Linked DNA regions of Homo sapiens: region 2 is linked to region 1. The links come from fine-mapping of genetic effects on gene expression. Tissue or cell type: adrenal gland. Region 1 holds a variant in brackets; the other region holds the start of a gene. All regions are shown on one strand. Distances are between the middles of the regions.

The links. PIP is the estimated chance that this variant, and not a neighbour inherited with it, causes the effect.
Region 2: it holds the start of CIB4, and the variant in region 1 is the best candidate, but not a certain one, in a credible set for the expression of CIB4 in adrenal gland (GTEx, PIP 0.63).

What each region holds. Positions count from the first base shown.
Region 1 is chr2:26,449,473-26,453,708 of GRCh38, forward strand. DRC1 (dynein regulatory complex subunit 1) reads left to right here. Exons shown (of 17, transcript NM_145038.5): 12 at 524-613; 13 at 1,120-1,209; 14 at 3,848-4,077. Among named protein-coding and RNA genes, the nearest start is that of DRC1, 50 kb to the left of the region's middle. The variant G/A (reference allele first, on the strand shown) is at 1,822.
Region 2 is chr2:26,639,637-26,643,872 of GRCh38, forward strand. CIB4 (calcium and integrin binding family member 4) reads right to left here and starts at 1,730. Exons shown (of 7, transcript NM_001029881.3): 1 at 1,625-1,730; 2 at 897-931. The coding sequence starts at 1,678.

The DNA.
Region 1 (4,236 bases):
CCATGGAGCTCTCCCCCAGGCATCCCAGCTCAGAGCGGGCACCGCATCTGCTCAGCCGCCCTCTCCCTTCCACCGCATGTGTGCTGTGTTTTGGTTTGGGGTGCCCACTGCTTTCCATGCCTCCCTGTCCTGCTGCTGTGTTCTGTAGATATTTGGGGACAAGACTATGGGTGAAGCAGGAGCCTGTGACTGGGTCAGCTTTGGACTGTGGTGGGGGCCTCAGGAGTTTGCCTAGTGGCTTGTGGGTGAGGTGGGTTGGTGCCCTTCTGGGTGGGAAAAGCTAAGTCTGTGGTGAGGATGGGCTTTGTCCCTGGCCTTGCTTGTCTCTGGCCTTGCTCCCTGGGGAGGGGGGCGTTCATGGGCACCCCAAGAAGGCTTTGCTGGGGCCCACTGCTGGCTCCCATCCCTGGGCGTCTGCTCCGTGGCATGGTCCCTGGAGTGTTACACAGGGGGCAGCTGCAGACCCTGGGACTCGCTCCTGAAACCTGTCCCCGACAGGAGATGCCTTCTTCCTTCTCCCCAGGGGTTCCTCATAGAGAGCAAGCTGCTGAGCCTTCTCCTGCCCCTGGAGCAGAATGAATGCTATCTGCTGAGGCTGGATGCCATCTTCTCCGTGAGTCCAACGGGGCTGGGAGGACACGGGTGGGGCTGCAGCCGGCCGTGTTCTCAGATGGCCCTGCCATTGCCTCAACCCTGGCAGTGGACGAGGGTCTCCCGGGGCTTCCCCTGCTCCCTGTCACATCCTTCCCTTAACCTACTCTCCACACAACACATTGGTCTCAGACTCACTGCAGTGTCTCCCACCCCTGCCTCTTCCTCTACTAGCATCTTCCTCTCAGGTTGTAGGTTCTCCCTGACACCCCCAAACTCAAATCTGGTGCAGCCCCACTAGGCATCCTCACAGCCATGGGATCCATATGGAGCAGCTCCTGGCTCTATGAGCATTGTTTCCGTGTGTTCTGATGTGTGTGTCCCCAAGTTCACAGTCGCTTCCCAGCGTTGGATGAATGCCCTCCACAAGCCAAGCCTCCCGCTCTTAGGAGCTGAGCATCTGTCAGCTGCCCAAGCCCGTGGCCTCTTGATGGGGTGTTTGAGCAACCATCCTGTTTTTCGCCCCAGGCCCTTGGAATTGAAAGTGAGGATGACTTGTATAAACTGGTGAACTTCTTCCTTAAATATCGAGCTCACCGTTTATCTTCCAGCCTCCAGGTAAGGCAAGGTGCAGAGAGAAGAAAGCATTTTCTTTCTTTCTTATTTATTTATTTATTTTATTATACTTTAAGTTCTGGGTTACATGTGCAGAACATGCAGGTTTGTTACATAGGTATACATGTGCTCTGGTGGTTTGCTGCACCCATCAACCCATCACCTACATTAGGTATTTCTCCTAATGTTATCCCTCCCCTAGCCCCCACCCCCCGACAGGCCCCGGTGTGTTATGTTTCCCTCCCTGTGTCCATGTGTTCTCATTGTTCAACTCCCATTTATGAGTGAGAACATGCGGTGTTTGGTTTTCTGATCTTGTGATCGTTTGCTGGGAATGATGGTTTCCAGCTTCATCCATGTCCCTGCATTTTCAATTGTCCCGAAGCCCCCAGAGCACAGTGCTGTCTTTGAGTAGCACTTCTGGAGAAATAGCGGGGCTTTTATGTCAGGTATAGCTAACTTAGCATTTCCCTTATTGTTTATCAATTTGTCTCTTTGTAAAGGGAAGAATGGCTTGGGGGTGAGATGCTGTTCTTATACTGAGGCCCAAGCAATCTTTTCCTGCACCCTCCCTCAAAACCAGGTCTCAGCCACTGTGAGACCAGAGCCCACCAG[G/A]TTCTGAATATTTTGATCCTTAACACTTTCCCGCAAGGCAAGGCCCATTTGTCCTACATATCTTGATTGTAATTGATTTCAGAAGGTGAATCAAATATTAACTATTTTAAAGAAGATGCCATATTAAAAGTCATATAACATTTTAATTTAAAAATGAAAAATGTGAATGAAAAATGTTTTTAGTACTGCTAGCCCAAAGCTGAGTATCCTGACATGCCTGTAAAAAGAGTTGGCTGGGCTAGGCACAGTGGCTCATGCCTATAGTTCCAGCTACTTGGGAGGCTCAGTTTAGCCCAGAAGGTTGAGGCTGCAGTGAGCCATGATGAGGTTGAGGCTGCAGTGAGCCATGATTTCACCACTGCATTTCAGCCTGGGTGACAGAGTGTGAGACACTGTCTCTAAGGGAAAAAAAAGAGAAAAGAAAAAAAGAGCTGGCAGAAATGGACAAAACCACAAAGCCATAAAGGGAATAAAAGCTATATTTGACTACAGAATTTAAAAACAATTCTGTAGTGCAAAAATCATGATAAGCAAAGTTAAGAGATGAATGACAAGCTGCAGAGAAATATTTTCAACTCATATCATAGTTAAGGCATTTCCTTAATATATAAAGAGCTCTCTGAAATCAATAAGAAAAAGACCAACAAAAGGAACAGATAACAAATATGAATGAACAACTCCTAGAAGAGGCAATACAGGTAACTCTTAAACATATGAAAAGACAATCAGCCTTCCTTGTAATAAGAGAAATGCAAATTAAAATGGCTGATTTCCATTTTGCCAACCTGTTATGTTGGCGCAAAAAAAAAAAAAGCTTGATAACACAGCAAGTATAACATAGCGATGACTGAGGTGTAGAAAACAGGCACACTCATAAGTTACTGGTAGGAGTATAAATTGTAACCTCCATTGAGGACAGTTTGGCAGTATCAATTACAAAACTATATACATTTTACTCTGAAATTCTTCTTCTTTTTTTTGAGACAGAGTCTCACTCTGTTGCCCAGGCTGGAGTGCAGTGGCACGATCTCGGCTCACTACAACCTCCATCTCCCAGGTTCAAGCCATTCTCCTGCCTCAGCCTCCTGAGTAGCTGGGATTGATTACAGGCACCTGCCACCACGCCCGGCTAATTTTTGTATTTTTAGTAGAGATGTGGTTTCACCATGTTGGCCAGGCTGCTCTCGAACTCCTGACCTCAAATGATCTGCCCACCTTGGCCTCTGAAATTCTTCTTCTAGGATTTTATTCTCTAAATATATCTCATTACAGTTGAAATGGTGTATTTATTGTAGCTGATTCACTGTACATTGTTTGAAATGGCAGAAGATTCGAAACAACCTATATGTCCATTGTTGAGGAATCTATTTAATAATATATGGTATGTCTACACGATGGGGTACTATAAAACTGTGGGAAAAAACCAAAGTTCTTTATGTATTCACATGAAAAGGTACCTAAGGTTTATTGGTAAGTGTAAAAGCAAACTACAGAACTCTATTTGTAGTATAGTATCATTGATGTCAAAACGAGAAGGAGGAGTATATATGGAAAGGTATGCGCATGTATTTATATATAAACATTATATAGACATACTATTTCCTTGGAAGGAACCATAGGAAACTTGATAGCATTCGTTTGCCTGTGGGAGGTCAATTGCATGAACTGCAAAATAGGAGTAGGAGGAAGACCTTTTAAATTTAACAATTAAAGCAAAAATTTAATCTGTATTATGATTCAAAAGAAGATTTCTAACATGTAAGCTTTATGAATGTCAGTAAGGTGAGCACCTAGGAGCCCGGATTTAGAAACAGAACCTTTCCATTTTCTCGTAGCCTCCTAGTGCCTCTCCCCATCCCATCCCCCTTCTTCCCACTCTTTCTCCTGTTTCTGTCCCTGTGTAAATGTCTCCCTGGGCAAGCTGTCACTTTCTGTAAACTTTTCTGGTTTTTCTTCTTCCTGCCTCTCTCTCCATGCTCATGCTCGTGTGTCCCCAGCCCACAGTTGTCCGTGCATCTTTCTCCAGATCAAGCCCTGCAGTCAGGCGAGCATGGAGAAGGCGAGCATGGAGGAGACAAGCACGAGGTCAGAATTGGAGCTGGCAGAGCAGACGGAGATGGAGGGAGAAAAGGAAGAAAGCCTGGTGGAAGGGGAGAAGGAGGAAGAGGAGGAGACCCCACCCTCCCCCTGGGTCATCCACCCCAATGATGTCCTCAAGATTCTGGAGGCCTTCGTCATGGGTCTGAAGAAGCCTAGGTGGGCTGCGGGGCTGGAAGGCTTGCCTGAGACCAGAACCAGGGGAGCTGGATGGGCTGGGGAGCCAGGCAGAGCCAGTGAGTGGAGAAGAGTCTGCTGGGCAAGATGCGGGGACTAAGGACAGGGCTATCTGAAGGCGGGCTGGGGCAACCAATCGCT
Region 2 (4,236 bases), 190 kb after region 1:
CTGGGTGACAGCCCCTGGTTAGCTCCCCGTGCCCTGGCCATCCCCCATCCTCATTTGTGCCTGGAGAGTCTTGCACTTGTGACAAAGTTGTTACCTGCCACCACCAGACCCTGAGTGGGAAATGTGGCTTCCGTGTGGTGACTGGGGAGGGTTAGTCCAAGCAAAGATGATGAGAGGGAACCTTCCCCCACCTTCCCCTGAAAGTGTCTTGGTGAGCTCCTTTATTCATCTAACAGGTTTTGTTGGGCACCTGGCTTGGCCCAAACACACAAACACACACACACCTCTCACACTATTCACTCTCCCCCACAGCCCCACGAGAAGGGTATTTGGCCACCTCCACGTTGAATGAAGTTTCTTCCCCACTGGACAGCGGTCCGCATGACAACAGGGAGCGGGGCTGCTCACCACCCCACCCTCAGGGCCTCCACGAGGCCAGCACATCACAGGCACCGGAGAAAGGGCAGGGAGGGAGGGAGGGAGGGAGGGAGGTGGAGAGGGAAGTCTGGGCTTCAGTCATGCATCCAAGTTTACCCAGCCAGTGGACAGCCAAAATGGGCTTCAGACATAAGTTCCCCAAGTCCTTTCCTTGTTCTCCTCATTATTCCAAAGAGGTTCTGTCCAGCTCCATGATCCTCTGAAGAAACCTCACTTTGGATCCCAGTAAAAGGTTAGCAGCCTAAAGCCTGGTGTCTCATTCAGCTCCAGTGGGGCTCTGCGGATCGTGGCCCCTGGGCCCTCCCATCCCTGCCTGCCGTGTCCCAGCCCCATCTCCAGGGCTGTGTGGCTCTGAGCAGGGACCACACTCAGGGACCAGCGTGAGGCTGTATTAGGGCAAGAATCCAGCTCAGAGGGAGGAGCTGGGAGAAGGAAAGAGGGGCGGGGCTTCTACTCACCACAGAATTTCATTTCTGGTCAGGAAGGTCAGGGCCTGCAACAAATCACAGAGAAGCGACGTGTCCACTCCATTCATCCCTGCTGTGGCCCCTGGGGAGTGGCGCAATTCAGAGGCTGGGGAGGAAATGCCCATTCTTTTGCTGCACAGCTGGGGGAACCCCAGGTTGAGGTGGATGCCTGAGGTGGCAGCAGGAGAGGAAATGGTGCTCTTTCTTACCCCCTAGTCTCTTACAGCCCTGGGAAGGAGGGCATTGGCACAGATGTGGAGAGCAGATCAGAGACAAGAGTGAAACTCTGGGCTCTGGTGCAGGAGACAGATGGAGGAAGGTAACCTTAGAGATCTCATCTGGGCCACATGGATGCAGATTTAGCAAAGAGAGGGACCACCGCTACCCCGCCTGGTAAACTCTAGAGCAAGCTTGTCCAACCCACGGCCTGCAGGCCACATGCAGCCCAGGACAGCTTTGAATGGGGTCCCAACACATATTTGTAAACTTTCTTAAAACATTATCAGATTTTTTCGTGATTTTTTTTTATTAGCTCATCAGCAAGCATTAGTGTTAGTGTATTTTATGTGTGGCCCAAGACAATTCTTCTTCCAATGTGGCCCAGGGAAGCCAAAAATTGGACACCCCTGCTAGAGCGTCAGGAAGGAATTTTCCCATTCATTCCACCTGCTTTAGGAAGCTCCCACCTCTGCCCAGAGTCCCTAGCCCGATCTACCCACCTGGTACTCTTCCAGGTCCTCCCAGTGCATCTGATACCTCAAGCATTGCCCCATGCCAACCACACCTTTCTGTCTGCCAGCAGTAGAACCTCAGCCTCAAGGACTCGCCAGCTGAGGCACCTCGTTGATCCAGTTGCCATGGTGACCTACATTCCACCTTCTGCCCATTCCACCTGAGTTACTGAGTTGGCAAAGAAACAAATTCTTTTCATTCCCATTCCACCTGAGTTGCTGAGTTAGCAAAGAAGCAAATTATTTTCAATCCCAAAGCTAAGAGGCATCAGTCCCATACAACAAGCAGAAAGGCAGTCCAAAGATGGGGCTGAGAGTCACACTGTCAGCTCAGGAGTCACAGTGCCTGGGCTCCAATCCCAGATCCACCCCATTGTAACCTGGGACAAGCTCTTCAATATCTGTGTGTCTTAGTTTCCTCATCTGTAAGTGGGGATGATAATCATGGGATTGTTGTGAGGATTGACGAATACAGGGAATAATGTCAGGCACATAGTAAGTGCTCAATAAATGCTAGCTATTTGAACCACAACCTAGCTGGGCATGGTGGCTCACGCCTCTAATCCCAATACTTTGGGAGGCCAAGTCTGGTGGATCACTTGAGGTGAGGCGTTTGCTACCAGCCTGGCCAACATGCAGAAACCCTGTCTCTACCAAAAAATACAAAAATTAGCTGGCATGGTGGCATGACCTGTAGTCCCAGTGACTCCAGAGGCTACGATGGGAGAATCGCTTGAACCTGGGAGGTAGAGGTTGCAGAGAGCCAAGATCGCACCACTGCACTCCAGCCTAGGACCCTGTCTCAAAAAAACAAAAAAACCCTACAACCTGCTGGGTGCAGAGGTGCACACCAGCACACCTGTAGTCCCAGCTACTCAGGAGGCTGAGGCAGGAGGATCGTTTGAGCCCAGGAGTTCATGGCTGCAGTGAGCGATGATCATACCACTGCACTTCAGCCTGGGTGACAGAGCAAGACCTTGTCTCTAACAAATCAAAATAAAAAATAAACAAGGAACCACAACCCCAGGACTATGCCAGGCATGGGGATGCCGAAATATATCAGCATAGATCCAACCTCAGGGAGTGGCCCAAAAAGTACAGAAAAGGGCGTTCCACCCCATCAGTCAGGGTCTCTGCAGGAACAAAGGGCACCATCAAATCAGGATCATGTGAAAAGGGTCTAAAAAAAGGACTCTCCACAAAGATGTGTTCAGGGTGTAGGGAAGTCACATGGATAACTGGATAACACAGACTCCTGAGCCCAACAACAAAGAGCTGCTACCCGACCCAGCACCACCCACCTGGAAGCACCACCCCAGCCCCACTCTCTCCTCTTTCTGTGATCTCCTACAGGGAAGAGAACAGGGCGGAGCAGGATGGGCAGACAGAGACAACGTCCAGCACAGGCATCAACATCACAGGCCAGGAGGGCCTTCCAGAAGCCATCACTCCCTCCCCTGCCTCCAGGAGGGTCTGCACACCCACCTTTGTCATGAAAGGCTGGTCTCCTTGTTCTAGAACACATCTTCCCTATGCTCTCCTGAGTAAACATCCCAGTGATTCTCTGATGACGCTTATTTATATCTCTGAAGTGCAACTGCCTGCTTTTTCTTTGACTGTCCTCCATGGGGATAGAGCCTGGCAGAAGGAAACCCGGGGCCCTCATTCCTTCATCTGCTCACCAGACACAGGTAGAATATCCACAGTGTGCCAGGGACTTGGCTTGACCCTGGGAGAGAGAGGACTGAACATGACTTCAACCCTCAAGGAACGTATGCTCTTCATGCTCTTTTAAGGGAGTAAGAAAAAAAAAAAAAAAAAAGAAATGTGTGCTCACCACACACACACACATACACACACACACATATATACACACACTAAAGCAGATGGAGGCAGATGTCACAGACGGGGAAGAGTACAGAGTTACGAGTGTTTAGAAGAGGAAAGGCTTGCTGGGCACCAAGCTTTCATGTAGGTGGTGGCATTTAAGTTGCTGTTATCATGCGGTGGTTAAGAACATGGGCTCTGAAATCTGAAAGGCCTGGCAGCATCTCTTCTTACTGCATCACCTCAAGCAAGTCATAAAATACTGTAAGCCTCAGTTTCCTCATCTGTAAAAGGGGAATGATAAATCCCTACTTCATAAGTATTGCAGGCATAAAATAAAATGATGGGTGTATGTGAAGCTCTTATTTAGCAAGATACCTGCTATGTATTGAGTTCTCAATAAAGGGTAAATTACCAGCCTGGCTAACATGGCGAAATCCCATCTCTACTAAAAATACAAAAATTAGCCAGGTGTGGTGGCGTGTGTCTGTAGTCCCAGCTACTGGGGAGGTTGAGGTATGAGAATCGCTTGAACCCAGGAGGTGGAGGTTGCAGTGAGCCAAGATCGTGCCTCTGTACTCCAGCCTGGGTGACAGAGTGAGACCCTGTTTCAAAACAAACAAAAATAAGGGTAAATTATATTACTACTTTTAAAAGTTGGGCCTGGGCCGGGCATGGTGGCTCATGCCTGTAATCCCAGCACTTTTGGAGGCCGAGGCAGGCAGATCACCTGAGGTCAAGAGTTCGAGACCAGACTGATCAATATGATGAAG